Linked DNA regions of Homo sapiens: all the other regions are reported to be linked to region 1. Evidence: microRNA targets listed by miRTarBase, many of them from high-throughput screens and not tested one by one. Region 1 holds a microRNA gene; each other region holds the end of a gene's coding sequence.
Evidence for each region. Region 1 holds the annotated microRNA hsa-miR-6781-5p (CGGGCCGGAGGUCAAGGGCGU, at 966-986, opposite strand). A microRNA usually pairs through its seed, bases 2 to 8, with sites in the 3' UTR of a target mRNA and lowers its output. Matches are read on the target gene's strand: a 7mer-m8 pairs with bases 2 to 8, a 7mer-A1 pairs with bases 2 to 7 and ends in A, and an 8mer does both.

Region 1 (7,176 bases):
TTACAGGCGTGAGCCATCACATCCAGCAAATTCTTCAGACTTTAAGACTCTACTCCATTTACCAGCTGTTGGACCTTAGGTAAGTCACTTAACCTCTCTGTGCCTCGGTTCTTCATCTGAAAAATGATGTAATGACGGTATACCCCGTACGGGTTGTTACAGGGACTAAATGAAGTAATACGTGTAATGCACTTGGTATTACTATATAGTAAGTCCTCAAAAAATACCATTTATTATTATATATACATATTCCTTTTCTCTGAAACAGCAGGAGCAGAAAATAAGGATCTTTCTTTTGCTACTGAAAGCTCTCTTTTTTTGAGACGGAGCCTCGCTCTGTTGCCCAGGCTGGAGTGCAGTGGTGCGATCTCAGCTCACTGCAAACTCCACCTCACCGGTTCAAGCGATTCTCCTGCCTCAACCTCCCGAGTAGCTGGGACTACAGGCACGTGCCATCACGCCCGGCTAATTTTTGTATTTTTAGTAGAGAGGGGTTTCGCCATGTTGGCCAGGCTGGTCTCGAACTCCTGACCTCAGGTGATCTGCCCGCCTCGGTCTCCCAAAATGCTGGGATTACAGGCGTGAGCCACCGCGCCCGGTCGGAAAGCTCTCAGAAGTCCACAATGTCAGAATGCTTTATGTTTCCAAGGAGAAAACAGGGAGCCAGATGAAGTGACTTTCCTAGGTTCACACGATGAGTTTGTGGCAGACTACACAGCCACCATAAGAATTATATCACCAAAGCTGCCCACCTTCCACATTCTTGACCACCCTCTTTCCAAGGGTCTCGCTGACCTGTGAGTTCCTGGATGGTGACACGGTCCAGGATCTTGAAACTCGTGTCCAGTTTCAGGGGCTGGCTGCAGCGCTGGCACACGAAGCTCACCTGCATGGTGCTGTTGTTGGACGTCTTAGACCCTTCCATCCCTGAGGCCGTGGAAAAGAGGCAACATTAGGGAGAAGCGACGCCCTTGACCTCCGGCCCGGGGTTACCACATGCCTTGGTGACGATGGTAAAGGGAGGGAAGTCCCAACCTGCGCCGTTCCCTCTAGGAATGGTATGATACGGGGAGGACCTGCTTCCGGGACAGCCTGAGCAAAGGCAGTTTAGAGCCCAGGGTCAGGGAAGGGACTCCAATAAGAGCCGTGAGGGTTCCCAGACTCCCTTCTAAGGTCCCACCTCAGCCCCCGATGCTCTTCACCTCGGGAGCCCGGAGCCCGTCACCCAAGTCCGGTCTACCGCGGAGGCACTGTGGCCTCGGGTCGGCCCCGGAGCGAGGCCTCCAGAACTACCATCGCTCTGTCTTCAGCGACTTCCCGGTAGCCGCCGGAAAACTTCCGCCCGAGACCGGACGTGACGCTACGACGGCAGCAGGAGCTCCTGGTCCACAGGCTCACAGGCCCGGCAGCGGCCCCCAGAGGCCGGGCTGGGAAAAGCAGCGGGCTTCAGCGGATGAACAAGGTTACCACGGGAAGTGTAGGAGCCAAGGCCGCAGAGAATGGGGAGGCTCCGCTATTCTCTAAATTCAGGGGGCGGCGGGCGCGGTGGCTCACGCCTGTAATCTCAGCACTTGGGGAGGCCGAGGAGGGCGGATCACGTGAGGTCAGGAGTTCGAGACCAGCCTGGCCAACACAGTGAAACCCCGTCTCTACTAAAAATACAAAAACTAGCCGGGCGTGGTGGGGCACGCCTATAATCCCAGCTTAATCCCAGCTACTCGGGAGGCTGAGGCAGGAGAATCGCTTGAACCTGGGAGGTGGAGGTTGCAGTGAGCCGAGATCGGGCCACTGCACTCCAGCCTGGGCGACAGGGCAAGGCTCCATCTCAGAACAACAACAGCAACAACAAAAGGCCGGGCATGGTGGCTCACGCTTGTAATTCCAGCACTTTGGGAGGCCGAGGCGGGCGGATCACAAGGTCAGGAGTTCGAGACCAGCCTGGCCAAAATGGTTAAATCCCGTCTCTACTAAAAAATACAATTAGCTGGGCATGGTGGCGTGCGCCTGTAATCCCAGCTACTCAGGAGGCTGGGGTAGGAAAATCGCTTGACCCCCGGAGGCGGAGGTTGCAGTGAGTCGAGATCATGCCACTGCACTCCAGCCTGGGCGACAGAAGGAAACTCCATCTCAAACCCCCCCCCCCCACACACACACACAAAACCAACAAAAAAAGAAAGTGATATTCAAATAAAAGCTTGAAGAAGGTGAGGAAGGAATTCTTACCTGCATCTTAAGGAAGAGCATTCTAGGCCAAGGGAACAGCAAGAGCACAGAGGGTACCTGTTTGGGGATTAGCAGAGGCTGGTGTGGCTAGAAGATGGGCAACGAAAAGAGATACAGAAAATGGGGTGAGGGAGGTAAGAGTGTTGAGCTACCACCTAGGCTCTTATAGGGATTGTAAAGCTCTGGCTTTCACTTTGAATGAGATGAGATGACTGGGTCTTGAGCAGAGGGACTTACTTCATTTTTAAAAACAACTTTATGGGGTATAATTTACATACCATAAGACTCACACTTTTTAAATGTACAGTTCAATAATTTTTAGTAAATTTACACAGTTGCCCAACTATCACCATAATCCAGTTTTAGAACATTTCCCATCTCCCCTTGCAATCCCCCACTGTGGCCTCCCAAAGTGCTGAGATTACAGGTGTGAGCCAATGTGCCTGGCCAAAAGTTTTTCATTTCAATAAAGTCCAATGTTTATGCTTTTGGTGTAAAAGAAACCACTGCTTAACCCAAAATTGTATGTAGTATTGTCTATTTTATTTTTATTTTGAGACAGTGTCTTACTCTGTTACCCAGGCTGGAGTGAAGCGGAACAAACAAACATGGCTCACTGCAGATTTGACTTCCTGGCTCAAGCAATCCTCTTGCTTCAACCTCCAGTGTAGCAGGGACCACAGGTGATCACTACCATGCCCAGCTAATTTTTAAAATTTTTTGTAGAGATGTGGTCTCACACTGCACTCCAGCCTCGGTGACAGAGCGAGACGCCATCTCAAAAAAAAAAAGAGATGGGGTCTCACTTTGTTGCCCAGGCTTCTGCTTTTTAAATTTAACATTTTTCTATGTTGCTACACAGTTATTGTAGTTATCATGGCTACATTACACTACACTAAATGTACTGCCTTAGTGTATTTTTTTACCGCTGGAAATTCTACTATTTCCCCTGTGGGTGATTACAATAATCCTGCAATGAAGAGCTGGCTACTTATGATAGAGACTCATAACTGGGACTACAGAATTAAGAGTGTGTCAGCTATTTAATGTCTCTTCCTTAACACTGGGAATCATTTTCCAAAGTGCTTGCACATAACTATATTCTGCTTCCAGTAATGTATGAGGAAGCCTGTTTTCATATTGCCTTGGCCAGTATTGGGTATCATATATTTGGGGAACAAAAGCAAAAAATGGCACTTCCTTGTTATTTTAATTAGCATCATTGATTGCTGGTAAGGCTGAACTTTTTGCTATGTATTTGCTTATTGTAGTTACTTTTTTTTTTTTTTTTGAGATGGAGTCTTGCTCTGTTGCCCAGGCTGGAGTGCAGTGGTGCCATCTCGGCTCACTGCAACCTCTGCCTCCTGGGTTCACGCCATTCTCCTGTCTCAGCCTCCCGAGTAGCTGGGACTACAGGCGCCCACCACTACACCCGGCTAATTTTTTATATTTTTAGTGGAGACGGTTTCACCATGTTAGCCAGGATGGTCTCAATCTCCTGACCTCCTGATCTGCCCGCCTTGGCCTCCCAAAGTGCTGGGATTACAGGTGTGAGCCACCATGCCCGGCCTTTTTTTAAAAAAAAAAAAAAAAAGAGACACGGTCTCACTCTGTCACCCAGGCTGGAGTGCAGTGGTGCAATATCAGCTCACTGGAATCTCCGCCTCCCGGGCTCAAGCAGTAGTTACTTTTTTCTGAATTATGTTTGCATTCTTTGATTATTTAGGTATTGGATTATTAGTATTTTTCTCAGTATTTTTAGTAATTTTTCATGAATGCTTTAATTATTTTCCAGATGTTCAGGAAGTTTTAAATTTTCAAGTCAAATCTGCTTATTTTTCTTGATGACTTATACTGCTTAGAAAGTTATTCCCACCTCCAGAAGTGTCTTTCTTTTCTTTTAAATGTATGTGGTTTCTTATAGTTGGTATTGGATGTGATATGTGGAACTAGATTGATTTTTCTCCCGGTTTTGTGACTAGGGATAGTGTTTACAATCCTTCTTCCTCTTGGCTCTTTCAGCATGAAAGCCCCTTTAGGGGAGGTGACTGGAATCATCCCCAAAGAATTCTCACCTAGTCCTGGTGTGGCTGCTTCATAGTCCTGCGTTTCTTCCTGCTTGGCTGTCCCTAACATCTCAGAAACGCATAGAGAAGTAACGGGCTTCTAGAGAGGTAGGGGGTATAGTGTTACAACTGAGGATTTGGAAGTTGAGACCACCTGGTTCTTTACCATCCACTAACCATGTGACCTTATGCAATTTATTCAACTGTTCTGTGCTTTGTTTTCTTATTTACAAAATGAGATTAATAGTATACAGTAGTAAATATCATAAAGGGTAGTGTGATAAATGAGCTGATACATTTGGAATGGAGGGGAATGACTGTTACATAGTGAATGCTCTGTGTATCCTCACACTTGGGAAGTATATGTAATCAGTGTATGTAGTGCTTGAGGGATTGTGAATAATACACAACATATCCTCAGTCATCGATTCAACAGATGTTTATTGAGCATCTACTATGTGCCAGTCCCTATTCTAGGTCTGAGAGGATATACTGGTGAACTGCTCTAATAGTTTATATTCCAGAGGAGAGAATTTGACAGTAAACATGTAACCAAGTTAATAAGATAATTTCAGATAATGGCAGATATTATGGGTTGAATGATGTCCCCCAAAAGATGTTGAAGTCCTAACATCTGGGACTAACACATGGGAATGTGACCTTTTTTGGAAATAGGATCGTTGCAGATGAGGTCATTGATGTTAGCCCTAGACCAATATGACTGCGTCCTTATAAATAGGGGCAATCTGGACACAGAGACAGACATGTACCGTGTCTGAGGGAAGATGATGTAAAGAGACACAGGGTGATCTGTAAGCCAAGGAAGACCTGAGGCTACCAAAAGCCAGGAAAGAGGTCTGGAACAGATACTTCTCTGGCTCCCTTAGAAGGAACATGGTCCTGCTGACACCTTAATTTTGGATTTCTGGCATCCAGAACTCTGAGACAATATATTTCTTTGGTTCTAAGCCATCCACTTTGTGGTACTTTGCTACAGCAGCCCTAGAAAGCTAATACAGTAGGTAAGAAGGTGATGTGATAGAGAGTAAGTGGGGGCAGGGTGGGAGGAGCTGCTTCAACTGGGGGATTCAGGAAGGCCTATGTTATCTGGAAACCACTGAGGGTGGTAAGTAGGGAAGAGACTTGACTGGCTGACTTAAAAAGAAACTATTTACGGGGGGATAGAATACATAGGGGAAAAGACACAAATCATACATGTATTTTCAATGAATTTTTACAAAATGAACACGTCAATGTAACCAGTACCCAACTCCCTCTCCCATGCCACCCTCTAATTGATGCCCACCCTAAGGGCAAACAATATTGTCAATTCTAACACCCTAGATTGAGTTTTGACTGTTTTTTGAATTTCATGTAAATGGAATCATACATGACATACTCTTGTTTCCTTTCGCTCATCATGAGATTCACCCACCTTGTGTAGTTTTAGTTCATACATTCTCAATACTTTGTAGTATTCCATTGTGTGACTATATTAAAATATAGATATCTCTCTTGCTGTTAAGAGGCATCTGGGTAGTTTCCAGTTTGGTCTATTGTGAATAGTGTTGCTATGAACATTCTTGTTCATGTCTTTTGGTGAATATATTTATGCATTTCTCTTGGGTGGGTCCCTAGAGTTGAGGTTTCTGGGATCTCTCTCTCTCTCTTTCTCTTTCTCTCTCTCTCTTTAGGTATATTCAGCTTGAGTAGATGCTACCATCTCTGTGGCTGACATATTAGCAGATTATTTTGAGCTGGCCTGGTGTGCACCTGTAATCCCAGCTCCTCAGGAGGCTGAGGCGGGAGGATCACTTGAGCCAGGAGTTCGAGACCAACTTGGACAACATAGCAAGACCCTGTCTCAGTCAGTCAATCAATCAATGATAAATTTTGGTGCTGAGTGAAGAACAGAATGTGACAGTTGGTGGGGGGTGGCAAGAGTGGAAATGGAGAGACCAGATAGGAGCCTATTGTAATAGTCCTAGCAAAGGATGACAGTGGCTTTGGCCAGGGTAACAAGAGATGGAGGAAAGCACACTCATACAGGATGCATTATACAGGGAAAGCTGACAGGACCTGCTGATGGGTTGAATGTGGAGAGACGAGGAAAAGAGAGGAATCAAGGTTGACTGTTAGGTTTTTGGTTTGAACAACTAGGTGGACAGTTATGTCAATTACTGAGATGGAGAAGAATAGGAAAATAACAGGTGTGTGGGAGAATCAAGAATTCTGGTTTGGCCATGTTAAGTTTGATATGCTCATTAGGTTTCCAAGTAGAAACATCAAATAGATGGTTAGAACTCAGTGAAGATGTCAGATGGGAGATACGAATCTGGGGCCCTCAAATCAGCATACAGATTTTTTTTTTTTTTTTTTTTTTTGAGATGGAGTTTCGCTCTTGTTGCCCAGGCTGGAGTGCAATGGCGCGATCTCGGCTCACCGCAACCTCCACCTCCCCAGTTCAAGTGATTCTCCTGCCTCAGCCTCCCGAGTAGCTGGGATTACAGGCATGTACCACCACGCCCAGCTAATTTTGTATTTTTAGTAGAGACGGGGTTTCTCCATGTTCAGGCTAGTCTCGAACTCCCAACCTCAGGTGATCTGCCTGCCTTGGCCTCTCAAAGTGCTGGGATTACAGGCATTAGCCCCCGTGCGTGTCTGGCCGAATACAGATGATACTTAAAGCTATGAACATGCATAGATCCTCTTTTTTTTTTTTTTTTTTTTGAGACGGAGTCTCGCTCTGTCGCCCAGGCTGGAGTGCAGTGGCGCGATCTCAGCTCACTGCAAGCTCTGCCTCCCAGGTTCACGCCATTCTCCTGCCTCAGCCTCCTGAGTAGCTGGGACTACAGGCGCCCGCCACCACGCCCGGCTAATTTTTTGT
Region 2 (7,808 bases), not on the chromosome of region 1:
TGGCTCATTGCAGCCTCCACCTCCCAGGTTCAAGTGATTCTCCTGCCTCAGCCTCTTGAGTAGCTGGGATTACAGGCACACGCCACGATGCCCAGCTAATTTTTGTATTTTTAGTAGAGATGGGGTTTCACCATGTTGGCCAGGCTGGTCTTGCACTCCTAACTTCAAGTCATCCTTCTGCCTTAGCCTCCCAAAGTGCTGGGATTACAGGTGTGAGCCACCGCGCCTGACCTTTTGCCATCTCTTTGCATCGATCTTTGCTTTTGTTTCTCTCTGTGTGTCTCCTTGCCTCTCTCCCTGTCACTGTCTCTCTCTCTCCCCTGCCTCCCCCTTGGTCTCTTTTTTTGCTGTCTCTTTCTGATGACCTTGTTCCCATCTCTGTGCGTGTGTGGCTCTCTCCCTGCCCATCTCTTACCATCTCTGCCTTCCTCTCCCAGGTCTTAAACGAATATTTCCACAATGTCTGTGAACTGGACCTGGTGTTCAACTTCTACAAGGTAGGCTCCTGGTGAAGAGGAGGCTGAAGGAGCCAGAGGAGGGGGACGGGGGGGACCCGTGGTGCACTAGCCACCCGGAGCCTCTGCTGAGGTCTGTGTCCCAGCTCGAGGGGCATCAGAGCCCCAGCTTCCAGGGTCCGGGCCAGCATCCTGGGGGGCCTCGTCTCACCCCAGGGTCTCCCCTCACACAGGTTTACACGGTCGTGGACGAGATGTTCCTGGCTGGCGAAATCCGAGAGACCAGCCAGACGAAGGTGCTGAAACAGCTGCTGATGCTACAGTCCCTGGAGTGAGGGCAGGCGAGCCCCACCCCGGCCCCGGCCCCTCCTGGACTCGCCTGCTCGCTTCCCCTTCCCAGGCCCGTGGCCAACCCAGCAGTCCTTCCCTCAGCTGCCTAGGAGGAAGGGACCCAGCTGGGTCTGGGCCACAAGGGAGGAGACTGCACCCCACTGCCTCTGGGCCCTGGCTGTGGGCAGAGGCCACCGTGTGTGTCCCGAGTAACCGTGCCGTTGTCGTGTGATGCCATAAGCGTCTGTGCGTGGAGTCCCCAATAAACCTGTGGTCCTGCCTGGCCTTGCCGTCTTTGAGCCCTTGCCTGTCTCCCCTGGGAACCAGATACCTAGGATGCCTTGCCTTCAGTCCATCAGTCAGTCAGTCAACAAACGCCCCTCATTGTGCTGAGCAAGGTGAGACACCCAGGTGCTCTTCAGACCTGCTCCTGCTCACCAAGGGCCCCCAGGCTGGAAGGGGTGATGGGTTTAGATTCCAGGCACTTGCTACTAAAATAACAATACTCAGCTAATGCTGAAGGGCACTCACCCTCTCCCAGGCATTGTTCTAAGCAATTGACATGTCTTACCTTACTTAAAGCTCACTAGATTATAAGTCTGGGACTATTTTTTTTTTTTTTGAGACATGGTCTCACTCTATTGCCCAGGCTGGAGTGCAGTGGCAGGATCATGGCTCACTGCCGCCTTGACCTCCTGGGCTCAGTTGATCCTCCCACCTCAGCCTCCCAAGTAGCTGGGACTACAGATGTGTGCCACCATACCTGGTTAATTTTTTTTTTTTTTTTTGAGATGGAGTTTCGCTCTTTTTGCCCAGGCTGGAGTGCAATAGCGCTAGCTCGGCTCACTGCAACCTCTGCCTCCCAGTTTCAAGTGATTCTCCTGCCTCAGCCTCCAAAGTAGCTGAGATTACAGGTGCGTGCCACCATGCCCAGCTAAGTTTTTTTTTTTTGAGATGGAGTCTTGCTCTGTTGCCCAGGCTGGAGTGATCTCCTGGCTCAAGTGATCTTCCTGCCTTGGCCTCCCAGAGTTCTGGGATTACAGGCGTGAGCCACTCTATCCGGCCAAGGACAGGACTGTTATTATCCCCATTTTCCAAGTGAGAACATTGTTCCAGGAATGTTTCAGGAACATTAAAAGACTTGACCAGGCTGGGCGCAGCGGCTCACGCCTGTAATCCCAGCACTTTGGGAGGCTGAGGCGGGTCAAGAGATTGAGACCATCCTGGCCAACATGGTGAAACCCTGTCTCTACTAAAAATATAAAAATTAGCTGGGCATGGTGGCATGCACCTGTAATCCCAGCTACTCAGGAGGCTGAGGCAGGAGAATTGCTTGAACCCGGGAGGCAGAGGTTGCAGTGAGCCGAGATTGTGCCACTGCATTCCAGCCTGGGCAACAGAGCGAGACTCCATCTAAAAAAAAAAGACGACTTGACCAAGGTCTGTAGCTAGTCAGTAGCCAAGCCAGGTTTGTTTTGAGCCAGTTTTGAAGCCAGGTGGGTAGCTCCAGAACCCTCATTTTTATCTGCTCGCCCCGGTGGTTGTTGGAAATGTAGGCACTGGGCTTGATGATTTGTGTTTCTTGGCAACAGCACTGCTGGCATTTGGGCCAGGACAATCCCTCATTGTGAGGCTGCTCCAGAAGTGGATGGACTTTTGACTTCCACCCACCAAGTGCCAGAAGTGGCCTTCTGGCCATTGTGATGATAGAAGCCACCCCTGAGTGTTTCTAGGGCCCTCTGAAGTTAAGGGGCCCCCGATGCCCACTGAGAGCAGAGTGTGGGGGCTGCTGGCCACACCTATGCCTGGCATCCTTCGCAAGCTGAGAACACCCTGGCCCCTGTCAGTTTCTTTCCTTCCTTCCTTCCTTTCTTTTTGACAGGGTCTTATTCTGTCACTCCCCAGGCTGGAGTGCAATGGCACAATCTTGGCTCACTGCCACCTCTACCTCCCAGGCTCAAGTGATTCTCCTGCCTCAGCCTCCCGAGTAACTGGGACTACAGGCGCCTGCCACCATGCCCGGCTAATTTTTGTATTTTTAGTAGAGACGGGGTTTCACCATGTTGGCCAGGCTGGTCTCGAACTCCTGAGCTCAAATGGTCCGCCCGCCTCAGCCTCCAAATTGCTGGGATTGCAAGCCTGAACCATGGTGCTCAGCCTCTTTTTATAAATATAAACTAGCATGTTAGTTTTTTATTGCTGCTGTAACAAATTATCACAAACTTAGCGGCTTAAAACAACACAATTTTATTCTCAATGAAATCTGAAATGGGTTTCAGTGGGCTAAAATCAAGTTGTCAGCAGAGCTGTCTGGACCATCTAGGAGAGAATCCTTCCCTGCCTTTTCCAGCCTCTAGAAGTTGCCTCCTGTTCTTGGCATGTAACCCTATCCTTCATCCTTCAAGCCAGCTGCGGAGCATCTTCCAGTCTCTCTCTCTCTGGCTCTGACTGATTTTCCTGCCGCTTGCTTTTACTGATAAGGACACCTGTGGTTACATTCGTCCCACCTGGATAATCTAGGATCATCTCCCCATATCAAGACCCGGACTGTAATCACAACTGTAAAGTCCCTTTTACTGTGTAAGACAACACATCTACAGGTTCCGGAGATGAGGATGTGGACATTTAGGGCGTGCTATTATTCTGCCTGCCACTTATATGGTGTCTATGTAAGAACTGGGGGCTGGGCGCAGTGGCTCACATCTATAATCCCAGCATTTTAGGAGGCCAAGGTGGCAGATCACTTGAGATCAGGAGTTCAAGACCAGCCTAGCCAACGTGACAAAACCCCATCTCTACTAAAAGTACAAAAATTAGCCAAGTGTGGTGTTGGGCACCGATAATCCCAGCTACTCAGGAGGCTGAGGCATGAGAATCACTTGAACCCAGGAGGCTGGGTTGCAGTGAGCCGAGATAGTGCCACTGTACTCCAGTCTGGGCGACAGAGTGAGACTCTTTTTGTCCCAAAAAAAAAAAAAAAAAGAAAAGAAAAGAATTTGGGCCGAGCATGATGGTTCACACCTGTAATCCCAACACTTTGGGAGAACGAGGTGGACGGATCACTTGAGCCCAGGTGTTCAAGACCAGTCTGTCCAACATGGTGAAACCTGTCTCAAAAGAAGAAAGGAAAGGAAAGGAGAGGGGAGGGGAGGGGAGGGGAGATTGGTTTTGTTAAGGTCAAAATCACACTCTGCTAGCCGAGTTAACCAGAGAGAGGATTCTAGCCGATGGAACAGCAAGTGCAAAGGCCCTGAGGCAGAACTTGCAAGAAGGCCAGTGTGGCTGGAACAGAGTAAGCAGAAGGGGGTTCGAGATGGTTCAGAGTGGGACTGGGGATGGGAGGGGAAGTCCGATCACACAGGGCCTGCTCGGGTTTATTCTGTGTCTGATGCCCGCTATGGGAAGGATGTTTCATTTTGGAGAACCTGGGGGATGGTGGTAACAGCTTTTTTGGGATACATACAATTCACCCATTTATGGTATTACAATTCAGTGGTTTTTGTTATATTCACAGAGTTGGGTAACTATCATCACAACCCATTTTAGAATATTTTTATCACCCCAAAAAGAAACCTTATCCTTCAGCCATCACCCCTCAATTCCCCTAGCACCTGGCAACCACTACTCCACTTTGTGTCTTATTGGATTTGCCTGGGCAGTTCATATAAATAGGATCATTTAATATGTGGGGCATGGGACAGTTTTGTGCCAAATCTGATGTAAGAGGTCAAGAATTGGGAGCAGAGCTTGGGTGCAGTGGCTCGTGCCTGTAATCCCAGCACTTTTGGAGGCCGAGGCAGGCGGATCACCTGAGGTCAGGAGTTTGGCCAACGTGGTGAAACCCCGTCTCTACTAAAAATACAAAAGTATCCGGGCGTGGTGGCGCATGCCTGTAATCCCAGCTACTTGGGAGGCTGAGGCAGCAGAATTGCTGGAACCTGGAGGGTGGAGGTTGCAGTGAGCTGAGATCACGCCATTGCACTCCAGCCTGGGTAACAAGAGTGAAACTTCGTCAAAAAAAAAGAAAAAAAAAATGTGCCTAACTAGCTACTGTAACACTTGACATGGATGAAGCTGGAAAACATTAAGCTAAGTGAAAGAAGCCAGACACAAAAGGCCGGATATTGAATGATCCATTATAGGAAACATGCAGAAAAGGCAAGTGCAGAGAGACAGAAAATGATGACGGGTTGTCAGAACCCAGGGGAAATGGGAGGGAGATGATAGCTAAAGGGTACTGGGGTTCTTTCTTGTTTTGTTTTGTTTTTAGAAGACAGGGTCTCACTCTGTCTGCCAGACAGTGGTGTGATCATAGCTCATTGCAGCCTCGACTTCTTGGGCTCCAGTGATCCTCCTCCCTCAGCCTCCCGAGTATCTTGTACTACAGGTGTGCATCACCACACCTGGCCAATTTTTTTAAAAACTTTAATTTTAATTTTTTTTTTTTTTGAGACAGAATCTTGCTCTGTCGCCCAGGCTGGAGTGCAGTGGCACAATCTCGGCTCACTGCAAGCTCTGCCTCCCGGGTTCACGCCATTCTTCTGCCTCAGCCTCCCGAGTAGCTGGGACTACAGGTGCCCACCACGCCTGGCTAATCTTTTGTATTTTTTAGTAGAGACGGGGTTTCACCACGTTAGCCAGGATGGTCTCGATCTCCTGACCTCGTGATCTGCCCGCCTCGGCCTCCCAAAGTGCTGAGATTACAGGCGTGAACCACTGTGCCTGTTTTAAACCTGGCCAATTTTAAAATTATTTTTCTTCGAGACAGGGTCTCGCTATGTTGCTCAGGCTGGTCTCAAACTCCTGGCCTTGAGCAATCCTCCTGCTTCAGCCTCCTTTTTACTTGTTTTTCTTTCTTTTTTTTTTCTCTCTTTCTTGATTTCTTATTTCAATAACTTTGGTATGCCCTGGCCTTCTGAGGGGCGGGGATTACAGGCGCAAGCCACTGAACCTGGCTTGGGTTTCTTTTCTTTCTTTACTTTTTCTTTTCTTTTCTTTTCTCTTCTCTTCTCTTCTCTTCTCTTTTCCTTTTCTTTTCTGTCTTTCTTAACTTCTTTTCTTTTCTTTTTTTTTGTGAGGGAATTTCGCTCTGTTGCCCAGGCTAAAATGCAATGGCATGATCGCAATGATCTCAGCTCACTGCAACATCCACCTCCCGGGTTCAAGCGATTCTCCTGCCTCAGCCTCCCAAGTAGCTGGGACTTCAGGCACATGCCACCATGCCTGGCTAATTTTTTTGTGTGTTTTTTTTAGTAGAGACAGGGTTTCACCATGTTGGCCAGGCTGGTCTCGAACTCCTGACCTCACGTGATCCACTCGCCTTGGCCTCCCAAAGTGCTGGGATTACAGGTGTGAGTCACTGCGGCCGGCCGTATACTTTTTTTTTTTTAGTGGAGTCTCCCTCTGTCGCTAGGCTGGAGTGCAGTGACACAGTCTCGGCTCACTGCAACCTCCACCTCCCGGGTTCAAGGGATTCTCCTGCCTCAGCCTCCCAAGTAGCTGGGACTACAGGCGCACGCCACCACGCCCAGCTAATTTTTGTATTTTTAGTAGAGACAGGGTTTCCCCATGTTGGCCAGGATGGTCTCAATCTCCTGACCTCGTGATCCACCCCCCTCCTGCTCCCAAAGTGCTGGGATTACAGGCGTGAGCCACCGCGCTTGGCCGAAGTATACATTTTAAATAAGTGAATTGAATGGTATGTAAATATATGTCAACAAAGATGTTACAAAACACCTGAATGAATGACATTTACCTTGTAGTTGTAAACAGAAAAACAACGAAAATGCACAAGAATTTTTTTTTTTGAGAGAGAGAGTCTTGCTCTGTCTCCCAGGCTGGAGTGCAGTGATGCGATCTCGGCTCACTACAAGCTCCGCCTCCCAGGTTCATGCCATTCTCCTGCCTCAGCCTCCCAAGTAGCTGGGACTATAGGTGCCTGCCACCACGCCCGGCTAATTTTCGTATTTTGTTTAGTAGAGACAAGTTTCACCGTGTTAGCCAGGATGGTCTTGATCTCCTGACCTCATGATCCGCCCACCTCGGCCTCCCAAAGTGCTGGGATTACAGGCGTGAGCCACCATGCCTGGCCACACGAATGTTTATAGTGGTTTTATTCACCAAAAACTGGAAACAACCTAAATATTCTTCAAAAATGAATAGAAAAACAAACTCTGGCCCCTCCAGGCAATGGAGCACTCCTCAACATTGAAAAGGAATGAACCCGGCCAGGCGCAGTGGCTCGTACCTATAATCCCAGCACTTCGGGAGGCCAGGGCAGGAGGATTGCTTGAGGCCAGGAGTTCGTGTCCAGCCTGAGCAACATAGTGAGACCCCCATCTCCACCAAAAAAAAAAAAAAGAAAAATATCCTGGACATGGTAGGTATCACACCTGCGATCCCAGCTACTTGGGAGGCTGAGATGGGAGGATTGCTTGAGCCCAAGGTATTGAGGCTGCAGAGAGCCAAGATCTAGCTACTGCACTCCAGCCTGGTCAACAGAACAAACCCTATCTCAAAATAAAGAAATAAGGCCAGGCACAGTGGCTTACATCTGTAATCCCCGCACTTTGGGAGGCCGAGGTGGGTGGACCAGCCTGGCCAACATGGTGAAACCACATCTCTACTAAATACAAAAAATTAGCCGATGTGGTAGCGCATCCCTGTAATCCCAGCTACTTGGGAGGCTGAGGCAGGAGAATCGCTTGAACCCGGGAGGCGGAGGTTGCAGTGAGCCAAGATTGTGCTATTGCACTCCAGCCTAGGCAACAGAGCGAAGCTCCATATTGGAAACAAATTAATAAATAAAACACATAAATACATAAATAAATTTCATGCACGTACTTGTGAGGATATAACTGGTTTTTTCGATGTCTTAGGATCACACCGTATGTGGTTCTGCAGCTTGCTATCAGTGCATCTTGGAGGTGATTCTGTGTATAGTCTGTGTGGAATCCCGTTATGTGGGTGCATCCTATGTTACTTAACCAGGCCTGCGTGGCTCCTCCTAATGAAGATGAAAGA
Region 3 (3,000 bases), not on the chromosome of region 1:
CCCTCAGGGAAGGGCAGTACCCCTCCAGCCTGGGAAAGGAGGTGAACCCGTGTCCTTTTGGAGTCCAGGGCAGGCTCCCAGCAAAGCGAGGGGGAGGCGAGCTGGCAGCGCGGCTGTGAGGGAATGAGACTTTGCCATCAGTCCTCACCAATGACATCTACTGTTAGTGCCACCCCATCGTCCCCATACTTCTCTTTATCTGATGATAAGGGGCATCTTTAAAGTGCTAGAAGACAGGAGGGACAGAGATCTGGAAGGGCATGCCCCGAAGGAAAGAACCGCCACAGGCCAGGGAGCTGCAGATGTGGGTCTAGGGCCGAGGCTTTGCAGCGTATTCCTTTTCAGATGCGAGGCCGAGCTGCCAAGCTGCTATCTCGTTCCCGGAGCACAGGAGGGCTCTGCGTGCTCTGTGGGCAGGGGACTGGAGGGTTGCAGATGCAGGGCCGGGCAGCTCCTCCAGCACCCCCACCAGCCCACCCTCTCTTCCCAAGGTCAGCAGCATGCTGCTTCAGGCCAAGGGCCTCTGGGCAGGTGATGCCCATGTTTAAAAAGAAGCATGTGAATGGCTCATTTCAAAATGTTTGAACTCTGCCCTTGATATGACTGTCTGGCTCCTTTGTCCCCATCTGGGTAGAAAACACACTGGGGAAGGAAGTGCTGTGTGTGCAGGAGCTCTCTGGCTAATTGGCAACCCGGGGCTGGGGGCTGACAGAGTCAGCAACCATGCTGGAGGGCCCCCCACTGTGAGCGGGCGCCCACCGTTCCTTACAGGAGCCTCCTCCCATTATGAAATGCCTGGCATCCCAGGAGTGTTCCACTCTCCCACACAACAGGGAAGTGGCAGAGATCAGAGCTGAGGGGATAGGAAGCAGCTCAGCCCTGCAGCTGGAGCTACCGGGGAGGATGGAGAGCTGCAGACCCTGGCTTCTCCTCAGGAACGTGTCCACCCTGCCCCGGTAGCCCTCTGATGTCTGCCATCCTGTGTTCACACGGAAAGACAGTCTTCCAATTTAATCACGCAGTTTGATGCTACCCTACTATTTCCATATGGACAAATCACTCAAAATCAAGTTAAACTAGGAGGAAGCGGCTGACCCGTTGGCTCTTTCTAGAGCGCAGCTGATATGTCTTTGACACACCTGAAAGGAAACTCCCACGCCCTCACCCTCCTTTGATCAGGGTTGCAGGTTGGCGCCGAAGACCCAAGGACTGCAGTGCTGCTCACGTGCCATGCCGTCCTGGGGAGACTCCCAGGCTGATGCTGATGGCGACAGAGGCCGGAGCTCTGGGGACAGCGGAGGGGCAGGCAATGTTGTGCGCAGTTACCCAGGGCAGGCAGCACTGGAATGGAAATCACTAAGTAGGAGACGGAGCCACATCAAGCCACCATCGTCAAATGAGGTCCTTTTGATGAGGATTAGGAGAAAAGCTTCTTGGAACTGCTATTTTTCAGTCCCCAGTTGAGTACTGTGGTGTGGGGGAAGCACGGAGTCCCAGTTCTGCGTTCCTGACGCTGATGGGCAGGTGGCTGCCTCTCCAATGCTTCGATAAACACAACTGGAGGGGCAGCTAAGCCACGGCAGTCCCCGGCAGGTTTGGCCACGCCAGAACTCGGTATATGTTTATCTACATGGACTTCGGAACAGTGAATTAGCAGCGGGCATAGTAACTATTTCCTTGTCAGCCTCCCAAGCTTAAAGGCTGGATCCATGTCAGGAATGACAGGTGAGTAACTCAGCCACACGAGTGACTATTAACTCCAGTGTCCACAGGTTGATTTGCTTGTGTGCATTTGTGGCACTTCCTCTGTGGCCCAAGTGCCAGGATGAGCTGCATCCGTGTCTCATTTAGGAGACATGCACGATGGGTCTCTGTCCCCGCAAGCTGAACCGTTCAAAACCAAGGAAGGAAAATTATAGCATCAAAAGGGATTAAAACTAGTGATTTGCTGTTTGAGCATTTCAAATAGATCCGGAACACCTATGATTCACTGAGTGGAGAATAACTAAAACAAATAAAAAATCATTTAGTTGCCAGGGCAATGTATTCCAGCAGAATGAACACTCTATGGAGGCCCATTCCTAAAGGGTGCCTCCAGGTAGCAAAGGCCCAATGGCTTTCTCCTCCGCCTGAGTGTTTGCGTGCCATTTTTGTATTCCAACACAGGCCTGTCTATGACTTCCTCCTGTTCCCTGCGCCTGGGCTAGATTAGAGAGGTAGGGTGTTAATGGTGGACTTGATGAAGATTGAAGACCCATTTTCTCCCCCTTGAGACCTGCCTGATTTGGATAAATTGAGAAGAACAAAGCAGCCCCTTTCTGTCCTTGGGAGAAAACCTGTTCGGTGTCTGCTTTTGCAGCTAGGTCGGCTCCTCCCTGGAAAGGGGCAGAGGTGGGGGCAGTCAACAGAGACCCCTGCTCAGGGAGGAGACCGTTTCCTGCCGTTGCCCGAGCCCACCAAGTCACACCAGGCCCGCTGCCTCCTTTATTGGTGCTGCCGGTTGGGGGAGCGTGAGTTGGAGCCTGGGCTGGAGGGTAGTGAGCTGCCACTAGGCGCCCGCAGCGCATGGGAGTCGAGCTGCTGACCGGCCAGGCTGGTGTCCCCTGTCCCCGATTCCTCACTATTTTCCTCCTTCTGGCTGCTCTGCTGCTCTGGACACTCAAAGTGGACACAGTGGAACACCTGGGAGAGAAAAGGAAAAGACCCCATGAGTGAAGGGTCAGCATGCGGCCCTGGAGTTGCCGCAAGTTGGGATACTGCCCTGCCCAGCTTTGGGGGCCACCACGAGGGAGTTAGAGGAGGTCCTTCCCACTGCCCACGCCTGCCCCGGCGCAGACACCTGATGGCAACTAGCATGCTGTAAACACATTTTGATCAGTCAAGAGGAAAGGAAATGAGCCAGTGGCCCAAAAGTTAGAGACACCATGACACGGATTCCCACAAAATCTTCACACTGGATTACTCCGTTTTTGCCAACCTTTGTCTAATGGGCTCTTTTTT
Region 4 (7,880 bases), not on the chromosome of region 1:
GGTCCCGGCGAGAGCTGCGATTGGGCGGGCGCGGCGATCCCTTTGAAGTGTGGCTGCCGATCGCGGCTATTTGACGTGCGGCTCGAGGAAGGCGAAGGTTTTTGTGTTGCTAGCCGGGGCCAGCGGCGGTGGCGGCGGCGGCGGAGGCGTCGGTGGAGGAGGGGAGGCGGCGAGGAGGCGCAGCTCCCGCTGCACCGCGATCGACGCTGCGGAGCGAGCCCACCCGCCCCGGGAGCTCGCCTCCCCGGTGCTCCCCCGCCCTCCCCGCCCCCCCAGCGGCGCTGCCTCCTCCAAATGAGCGATTCGCCCGCTGGATCTAACCCAAGGACACCCGAAAGCAGCGGCAGCGGCAGCGGCGGCGGCGGGAAGAGGCCGGCGGTGCCGGCAGCGGTGTCCCTCTTGCCACCGGCGGACCCCCTGCGCCAGGCGAACCGGCTCCCGATCAGGGTCCTGAAGATGCTGAGCGCTCACACCGGTCACCTCCTGCACCCGGAGTACCTGCAGCCGCTGTCCTCCACTCCCGTCAGCCCCATTGAGGTCAGTCCCCGGCCGCTGCCCCCGGGCGCCGGCCCCATTCCTCCCACCGCGACCGGGACCCTGACCCAGCTCCCAGCGCCCCGGGGCTCGGTGCGACACCCAAGTCTGGTCACGCTGGCGGGCTGAGTGAGGAGGGGAAGAAAACCGAGGGATCAGAGCCCACCAGGGCTTCCCCAGGCTTCCCCGTGGAAGGGTCTCCTTCCACGCTCGCCCTTCGGAGCTCCGTGTTTTCTCTCGGATTGGATTTGCTCCTGGAGTCCCCTCTGGGTCCTTTACTTTTCCTCTGATCCCCAGTTTCCAGCCAGGAGTTGGTCTCTGCTGGGTCTTCCCCGCCCCCCACGCCGGGCTGTTTTCTTTGAAGCCCTGGCTGCCCGGGTCCCACTTCGCCTCTGTCCCATCCGGTGAGGGCGCACGGCGCCCTGGCGCTCCCGATCCCGGATCTTTCTTCCTGCCTCTTCCCTGGGTGCCCTCCCCGGGAGGGAGGGGCTACGGAGAGAGCGCCAACTGCAGCCCCTCCTTTAGAATCCGCGCTCCCCTCTCCTACCCCGCGGCGCCATCGCCAGAAACCCGTCCCAAGCGAAGTTCCCCCAAACTAAAGGAATAAGTTTTTTCCTGGGCCTGGAGGAGGGGGACATTAGAGGGAAGTGGCGAGTCACAGCCCCGACTCCAGAGACGTCACCTTCTCCCGCAGGGGTCCTGGGTGAACTCCTTCCGCAGGGCCTGCGGCGCACCCCGGGACCCAGCGGCAGTGTGGGCGCAGTTCCGCCAGCTGCCGCGCCCGGCCCGGCCCTCGCTCGCAGACCCTCTCCCCAGGCCCGCCCCGCCCCGTGGCGCCGCCGCCCAGCTCCCCGGGCGCCCCCGCTCGCCCCGCAGGCCTCTGAGTCTCACTCCTTCTCCCTCCCCCTGCTTCTGTCTCCCACAGCTGGACGCCAAGAAGAGCCCCTTGGCGCTGCTGGCTCAGACCTGCTCGCAGATCGGCAAGCCGGACCCGCCGCCCTCCTCCAAACTCAACTCGGTGGCGGCGGCGGCCAACGGGCTGGGAGCGGAGAAGGACCCCGGCCGCTCAGCCCCGGGCGCCGCCTCCGCAGCCGCGGCCCTGAAGCAGCTGGGGGACTCACCGGCCGAGGACAAGTCCAGCTTCAAGCCCTACTCCAAGGGCTCCGGCGGCGGCGACTCCCGCAAAGACAGCGGCTCCTCCTCGGTGTCTTCCACCTCCTCCTCGTCCTCCTCGTCCCCGGGAGACAAGGCGGGCTTCAGGGTCCCCAGCGCCGCCTGCCCGCCCTTTCCCCCGCATGGAGCGCCGGTCTCCGCATCCTCGTCCTCGTCGTCGCCCGGCGGCTCCCGCGGCGGCTCCCCGCACCACTCTGACTGCAAGAACGGCGGCGGGGTTGGCGGCGGGGAGCTGGACAAGAAAGACCAGGAGCCCAAGCCCAGCCCGGAGCCGGCAGCCGTGAGCCGCGGCGGCGGTGGGGAGCCCGGGGCGCACGGTGGCGCCGAGTCCGGGGCCTCCGGGCGCAAGTCCGAGCCGCCCTCGGCGCTGGTGGGGGCCGGCCACGTGGCGCCGGTGTCTCCCTACAAGCCGGGCCACTCGGTGTTCCCGCTGCCGCCCTCCAGCATTGGCTACCACGGCTCCATCGTGGGCGCCTACGCCGGCTACCCGTCTCAGTTCGTGCCTGGCCTGGATCCTAGCAAGTCCGGCCTCGTGGGAGGCCAGCTGTCTGGGGGCCTGGGCCTGCCGCCGGGCAAGCCCCCCAGCTCCAGCCCGCTCACCGGGGCCTCCCCGCCCTCCTTCCTGCAGGGATTATGCCGCGACCCCTATTGCTTGGGAGGTTACCACGGCGCCTCGCACCTCGGCGGCTCCAGCTGCTCCACCTGCAGCGCGCACGACCCTGCCGGGCCCAGCCTGAAGGCGGGGGGCTACCCGCTGGTGTACCCCGGGCACCCGCTGCAGCCCGCCGCGCTCTCGTCCAGCGCCGCCCAGGCCGCGCTCCCCGGCCACCCGCTCTACACCTACGGCTTCATGCTGCAGAACGAACCGCTGCCGCACAGCTGCAACTGGGTGGCAGCCAGTGGGCCGTGCGACAAGCGCTTCGCCACCTCGGAGGAGCTGCTCAGCCACCTACGGACCCACACGGCCCTGCCGGGAGCCGAGAAACTTCTGGCCGCCTACCCCGGGGCCTCGGGCCTGGGCAGCGCCGCCGCCGCCGCCGCCGCCGCCGCCTCCTGCCATCTGCACCTCCCCCCGCCCGCCGCCCCCGGCAGCCCCGGGTCGCTGTCCTTGCGGAATCCACACACTTTGGGCCTAAGCCGGTACCACCCCTATGGCAAGAGCCACTTATCCACAGCGGGGGGCCTGGCCGTGCCGTCCCTCCCCACAGCCGGACCCTACTATTCGCCATACGCGCTGTATGGACAGAGACTAGCTTCAGCCTCGGCGCTGGGATACCAGTAACTACAGCTCTTCCTCCACCCCAGCCCCCTCACCCTCCTCCCTCTCCCTCCTCCTCCCTCCCCACCTGCCGTCGCCGCTGCAACCTCCACTACTGCTTGACCCTGCCGGGATTCCCCACCCAGCCCTTCCCCACCGGACTGTGTATTTATTTACTATAATGTTAGCTTACAAGCTGGGAATATAAGTGCATTAACGGCCCACATGAGTCAATGGTATGCAAAAAGTCTGTGTTCTCCCAAATAATAATATTAATCCCACAAATAACGACATGATCCCCGCCCCTGTTCCTTTCTGTTATTTTTTCTTAGATATAAGTTTTACATTTTTTATTCCTTTTCCTCTTTTTTTGGTTTTGATTGGTTTGGTTTGAGGGAGAGTTGGGGTCTTTGGGTTCTTCTAGACGTTTTGTTTTCCCTTCCTGGGGAGTTTCTTGCATGAGTCTTAACTTAAAACTACGTTTCCGCCTTCTCTTTTTCCCTCTTCCCCCTTCATTCCCTCTTGTTTCCTTCCATTTGCGGTTCTGTTTTTGTTTTTTGTTTTGTTTTGTTTTGTTTTTTCCTTTGTTGTACAAGTAACAGAGAGGAGGTTTTTTTTGTAACTCATTTTGGGGGTGGAGGGGGCCACCTGGGTGGCAGGGGCCCTGGAGCTCTATTGACCTGGTACACTGCTCCGGGACTCCTCCCCCGCCACCCTCCGCGCATAGGGTCCTTGGTCTGGACCCTGCCCCCCAAAAGTAGGGCCTTGCTCCTCTACCTTGCTCTGAGCACGGAGAGCCCTGACCCCACCAGTAGGCTCGCCCCCAGAAGGGCCCAAGTGGCCGTCTACCGTCACCTTCCAGACTCCCGCCCCTAACACCCAGTGGCTACAGTGCGCCTGTCGGGGCACCTGGAGCGCTCACCTGGTTGAATTCAAAGTCCCAGAAGGCCCCGCTGGCGTGAAGCCGGCCCCTTACATTTTGCGAAGTGCATTATAGTCCTTGTTTTTCTCTCCCTCGTGGGGGCAACGACCCCTCCCCTGGCAGTAGGGGTGGGGTAGGTGACTCTCGCTAGATCCCTCCAAAGCAGACCGGTGGCGATGTCAGCGGATGTCACGAGCTCGTTAGCTGCGTTCGGGGAAGGTTGGGGCGTCAGGGAGCTCTCGGATCACAGCAGCCCCCGCCCTCTCCTAGGCCTGGCCCGGCAGAGCCCCCAGAGTGGACCCCCCAGCGACTGGGGTCTTCTCCCCACTCCTCCCTCCTTCTGGTCTGATGCGGCAGCGCGGGGGCTGCGGGGCCTGTTTGGGACGAACAGAGCTCTCCCTTGGTAAGACTTATTTTGTTAATAAATGGAATACTTGGCTATATTCACACCGTGGTGTTTTTCTCTCTTGCCTCGCCCACCCTCTTCCAGACACCTAAGCAGATGCCCTTCTTTTATTCTTGTTTAAAATGCCTTATGGTTTCCTTCTGTGATTTCCGTTCAAGGACGAGTTTAATGCCTTTCCTCAAGAAATGGGGGAGAAAAAACAAAACTTCTGCCAACGCATTACAAATAACATAAAACCACCTTTTAATTTTTTTCCCCAGTTGGTTATGTAGCTCCCAGCCTCACTTCAAAGGCCTTGACATTTCCTGGGGCCAGGGTGGAGGGTGTGTGTAAAAGTGGATTTTCCTCTGGGCCCAGATGCGACGTGCTAAGGGGGCTAAGAAGGGACCCCAGGACCCCAGCACCAAGGGCTCCGGCAGAGACTCCAGCAGCGCAGTCCTGGAGCCCGGCGGCCTGGCGGGCAGAGACGAAACGCCTTTGGCGCCACCTGGTGGCAGGAAGACGAGCGACAGGCCTCGGAGAGAAGGCGCAGCCCGCACTAGCCCCGACGGCACCTTGGTTCTTCTCATCTTCTGAACGCGAAGGATTCCTACCTGCTGTTTTTGTGGGGCGTTTCCTCTCTCCTGACCAGAGGGTAAAGGCACCTGCTGAGAGGGTTGCTTCTCAAGGCTTGGGGGCTCCCCTCAGCCATCGCTGGGTTGTCGACCTGGGTCATCTGCGCCCCGGAAACTTCGAAACAGGGTTTGGGTTTTGCTGAGAAGATGCGACGATGACTCAAGACCTTGAAGCCATTCTCAGTCCGGAGGAGCCGGGCCCCTGGGCCTGGCTCGTCCATTTTCTTGAGCTCGCACGACTGACACTGGCCTCTGCATCCTCGGGCAAGAGAGGGCGGGTGCTGTTTACTGACGTGTTGGCCAGGGAGCCTGCCCCCTGTACCATAGACAGGCCCTGCGCGAGTGTCCAAGGCGGGAGGAGAGAAGGGACAGCTCTGGGAGGCCCAGCCACGTCCAGCCCAATGCAGACTCGCTGCCCTACCCCCAGCAGCGAGAGCGGGCTGCGCCCGCCAAGGCACGGCGGCTCAGACTTCGGCTGCCCGACGCCAGGACCCCGCTCCATCGGGCCGGGGGCGCTTGCTCCCTGCGCAAGGGCCTGGGCGCGCGGGGCCAATGGGACGCTCTGCAAAACCGCCTCCTGCGCCGCTTCCTGGCCGCGCTCCTCGTGGGATCTGTCGTTGGGGTTGTGCTGTTTGCTTTTTCTGTAAGGAATGCGACTTGGGAGTTCGTGCTCTGAAAGGTGCATGCTTTTGAAACGTCTGTGGCCCGAGGTCAAGTGCAGTGCGTAGGATGGGGCCGGTTTCTCTGCGCTGTTTTTGGTTGTCCACAAACTCGACGACAGACAGGGCGTGTGTGTGTGTGTGTGTGTGTGTGTGTGTGTGTGTGTTTGTGTGTGTGTGTGTGTGTGTGTGTGTGTGTGTGTGTGTGTGTGTGTTTTACCAAATCTTTGGATCTAGCAAAAGGAAAGGGATCCTGGGGTGCTCCTACCACTGGGCACTGGGAAACCCGAATTAGAGAAAGTGCCCTGAGACCAGATCAGGGTCTTCCTGGGAAACCAGCATTATCCAATTTCTCGGGGTTCAATCTGGCCCGAATCTTTAAACGAACTAAATGTAGCGACTCGTGGCTTTATTGTTTCTTTTTCTGTTGTTTTGTTCGTTGTTTATTATTTCTTTGCCATCTTCCCTTCCTCTGAAGGCCCCTCTTTCCTTCAGAGACCCACCCCCTCACTATGTTTTTTAATGCCTGCTAAAAATGATGGAAATTGCTCCCTCTGTAGGGCGACTTAAACTTTGCTTTCTTACACTTCAAGTCTTCAGACCTCCCTATCTACAAACCAAAGGGCTCCTCTTGTTGGGAGGAAGGAAGGAAGGGACGCACAACCAGCAAATTCCCTATACCAAAAGAAACTGTTCTAAAAGGTGTTTGGCTTATACCTTAGGTGTAAGAATGCAGTTAGAGAACTCCTTAGACTACAGAGTTTCCCCCATAAAATGTATTGGTGGCCTTTGGTGACTGGGAAGTTCACTGTTGGGCCTGGTGGGAATAGGCTGCCCCCAACTACCATTGTGGCCGCAAAGGGCAGGTCACATAGTCTGGAGTGTCCAGTTCTACTCTGAAAAGATGGCTCTCCCCACCTAAGAAATGTGACAGTTTTAATAAGCTGATGAAAAGTTTGTTACTTTCAATAGCTTAATTCCCATTAAACAAAGTTGCCATCTTAATGGAGGTGGTGCTCCCCTATCCAGTGCTTATTTGAATAATTAATGCCTCCAGCAACCCTTTCTTTGAGGGTCACCTCCACCTTCCATTTCTCCACCTCCTCTTCCCAGCCCTCCTCCGCCTCTTTCTCCTAATCTGTCCCAGGCGCCAGAAATGGGGCCGGTGTTCCCAAAGCACCAGGAAGGGTGGAAGCCACAGGGCTGGAACTTGAGACACTGGACGTTCCTGGCTCCAGGTCCTATTTTCACACCTCTTGCCTGGTTATTTTTGTGGCCTTGTGGCAGCCATGGGAGGAAGGGAGGAGGAGAAAGAGGGGAAAGACTCACCCTTGGATATAGGCTGGACTCAAACAAAATCATGTGGTGTTAAGTTTTTAACTTCCCAACTGTACACCCGCAAACCCATCTCCTAAGAAATTCATAGCCCAAGCGGGAGGTGTGGGGCCCTTCCCCATCTTTCTGCAGCCATAATTGCTCTGCCCTACCTAGCATACTGTGATTGTATCTCTGGGTATATGAACTAACTCCCTCCTGATGTATGTCTGGGTTACGGTGGAATTCATCTTACAATAATCCTGTGGCTCTACACTTTATTAATCATTCTGTAGGGGAAGCTGCACTCCAGTTTTCTGTTTGATTTGATTTCATTCATCCTGTCTTTTTGCAAAATAGATGGTTGAGTGCATCCGATAATGTATGGTTTAATTTGGAGCACTATGGGTTTGAATTACCATTTTCATAATGTGCTGTGCATTAATGTGTTACATCATTTACAAAGAGGAATGTGCCGGGTTTCAAACTTTCTCCTGAAAGCCAAAGTCACCTAAAGGAAACAAAGCCAAATCACATCAACCCATCTTCTTACCTCCCTGCCAGAGAGCCTCCTGCCTCCCCAACCCCAGTTAAATCTGCCAAAGCTCATAAAACCCAACATGAAGCCTTTGTATTCACATAATGCAGGTGGGTGTCGAGGTTTGGGGGAAACTTTGCACATGGCTGCCCGGGAGCCGTCAATGGCAGTACAAAGCTCCCCCTCATTATTGCATAACAACAGCTTTGCAGCCAACCCGGTTTTCATTTTTTTTTTTTCGGAGACCTCCAGTGGATGGCTCTTCGTCGACCCTAATCCCAGCACTCCCTCCCCAATGGCTGTAATAACACCAGCTGTCTGTTACTCAAACTCTGACTGAGGAGGAAAAAGCACTGATTATCCAAATACAGTCATTAAAGGGGAAATGTGTTTTTAGGACTGTCAGAGTGATTAATGAGGGCTAGCCGTCTTTGCAAATGCACTTGTTTAGTCTAACTGGCA

Region 2: miRTarBase lists AP2S1 as a target of hsa-miR-6781-5p. Seed matches in the 3' UTR shown: 7mer-m8 at 809-815 and 7mer-m8 at 815-821.
Region 3: miRTarBase lists BTBD9 as a target of hsa-miR-6781-5p. Seed matches in the 3' UTR shown: 7mer-m8 at 441-447.
Region 4: the mRNA of ZNF703 is a reported target of hsa-miR-6781-5p. Seed matches in the 3' UTR shown: 7mer-A1 at 3,183-3,189 and 7mer-m8 at 3,930-3,936.

Annotation. Positions count from the first base shown.
Region 1 is chr17:42,822,953-42,830,128 of GRCh38, forward strand. MIR6781 (microRNA 6781) reads right to left here and starts at 991; the gene lies at 928-991. It overlaps BECN1 (beclin 1), which reads right to left and starts at 1,330. Exons shown (of 12, transcript NM_001313998.2): 1 at 1,203-1,330; 2 at 796-927. The coding sequence starts at 925. RefSeq lists enhancers at 557-1,123, 1,124-1,692, 1,559-1,688, 1,693-2,259.
Region 2 is chr19:46,831,429-46,839,236 of GRCh38, reverse strand. AP2S1 (adaptor related protein complex 2 subunit sigma 1) reads left to right here. Exons shown (of 5, transcript NM_004069.6): 4 at 438-497; 5 at 689-1,070. The coding sequence ends at 790. Among named protein-coding and RNA genes, the nearest start is that of SNAR-E, 4.6 kb to the right of the region's middle. RefSeq lists an enhancer at 528-1,028.
Region 3 is chr6:38,172,501-38,175,500 of GRCh38, forward strand. It overlaps BTBD9 (BTB domain containing 9), which reads right to left. Exons shown (of 11, transcript NM_001099272.2): 11 at 1-2,682. The coding sequence ends at 2,485. It overlaps LOC124901315 (a long non-coding RNA gene), which reads left to right and starts at 2,678. Exons shown (of 2, transcript XR_007059571.1): 1 at 2,678-3,000.
Region 4 is chr8:37,695,686-37,703,565 of GRCh38, forward strand. It overlaps ZNF703 (zinc finger protein 703), which reads left to right and starts at 97. Exons shown (of 2, transcript NM_025069.3): 1 at 97-537; 2 at 1,460-4,334. The coding sequence starts at 295. The coding sequence ends at 2,989. RefSeq lists silencers at 1-57, 108-207 and enhancers at 1-485, 486-1,028, 3,462-3,973.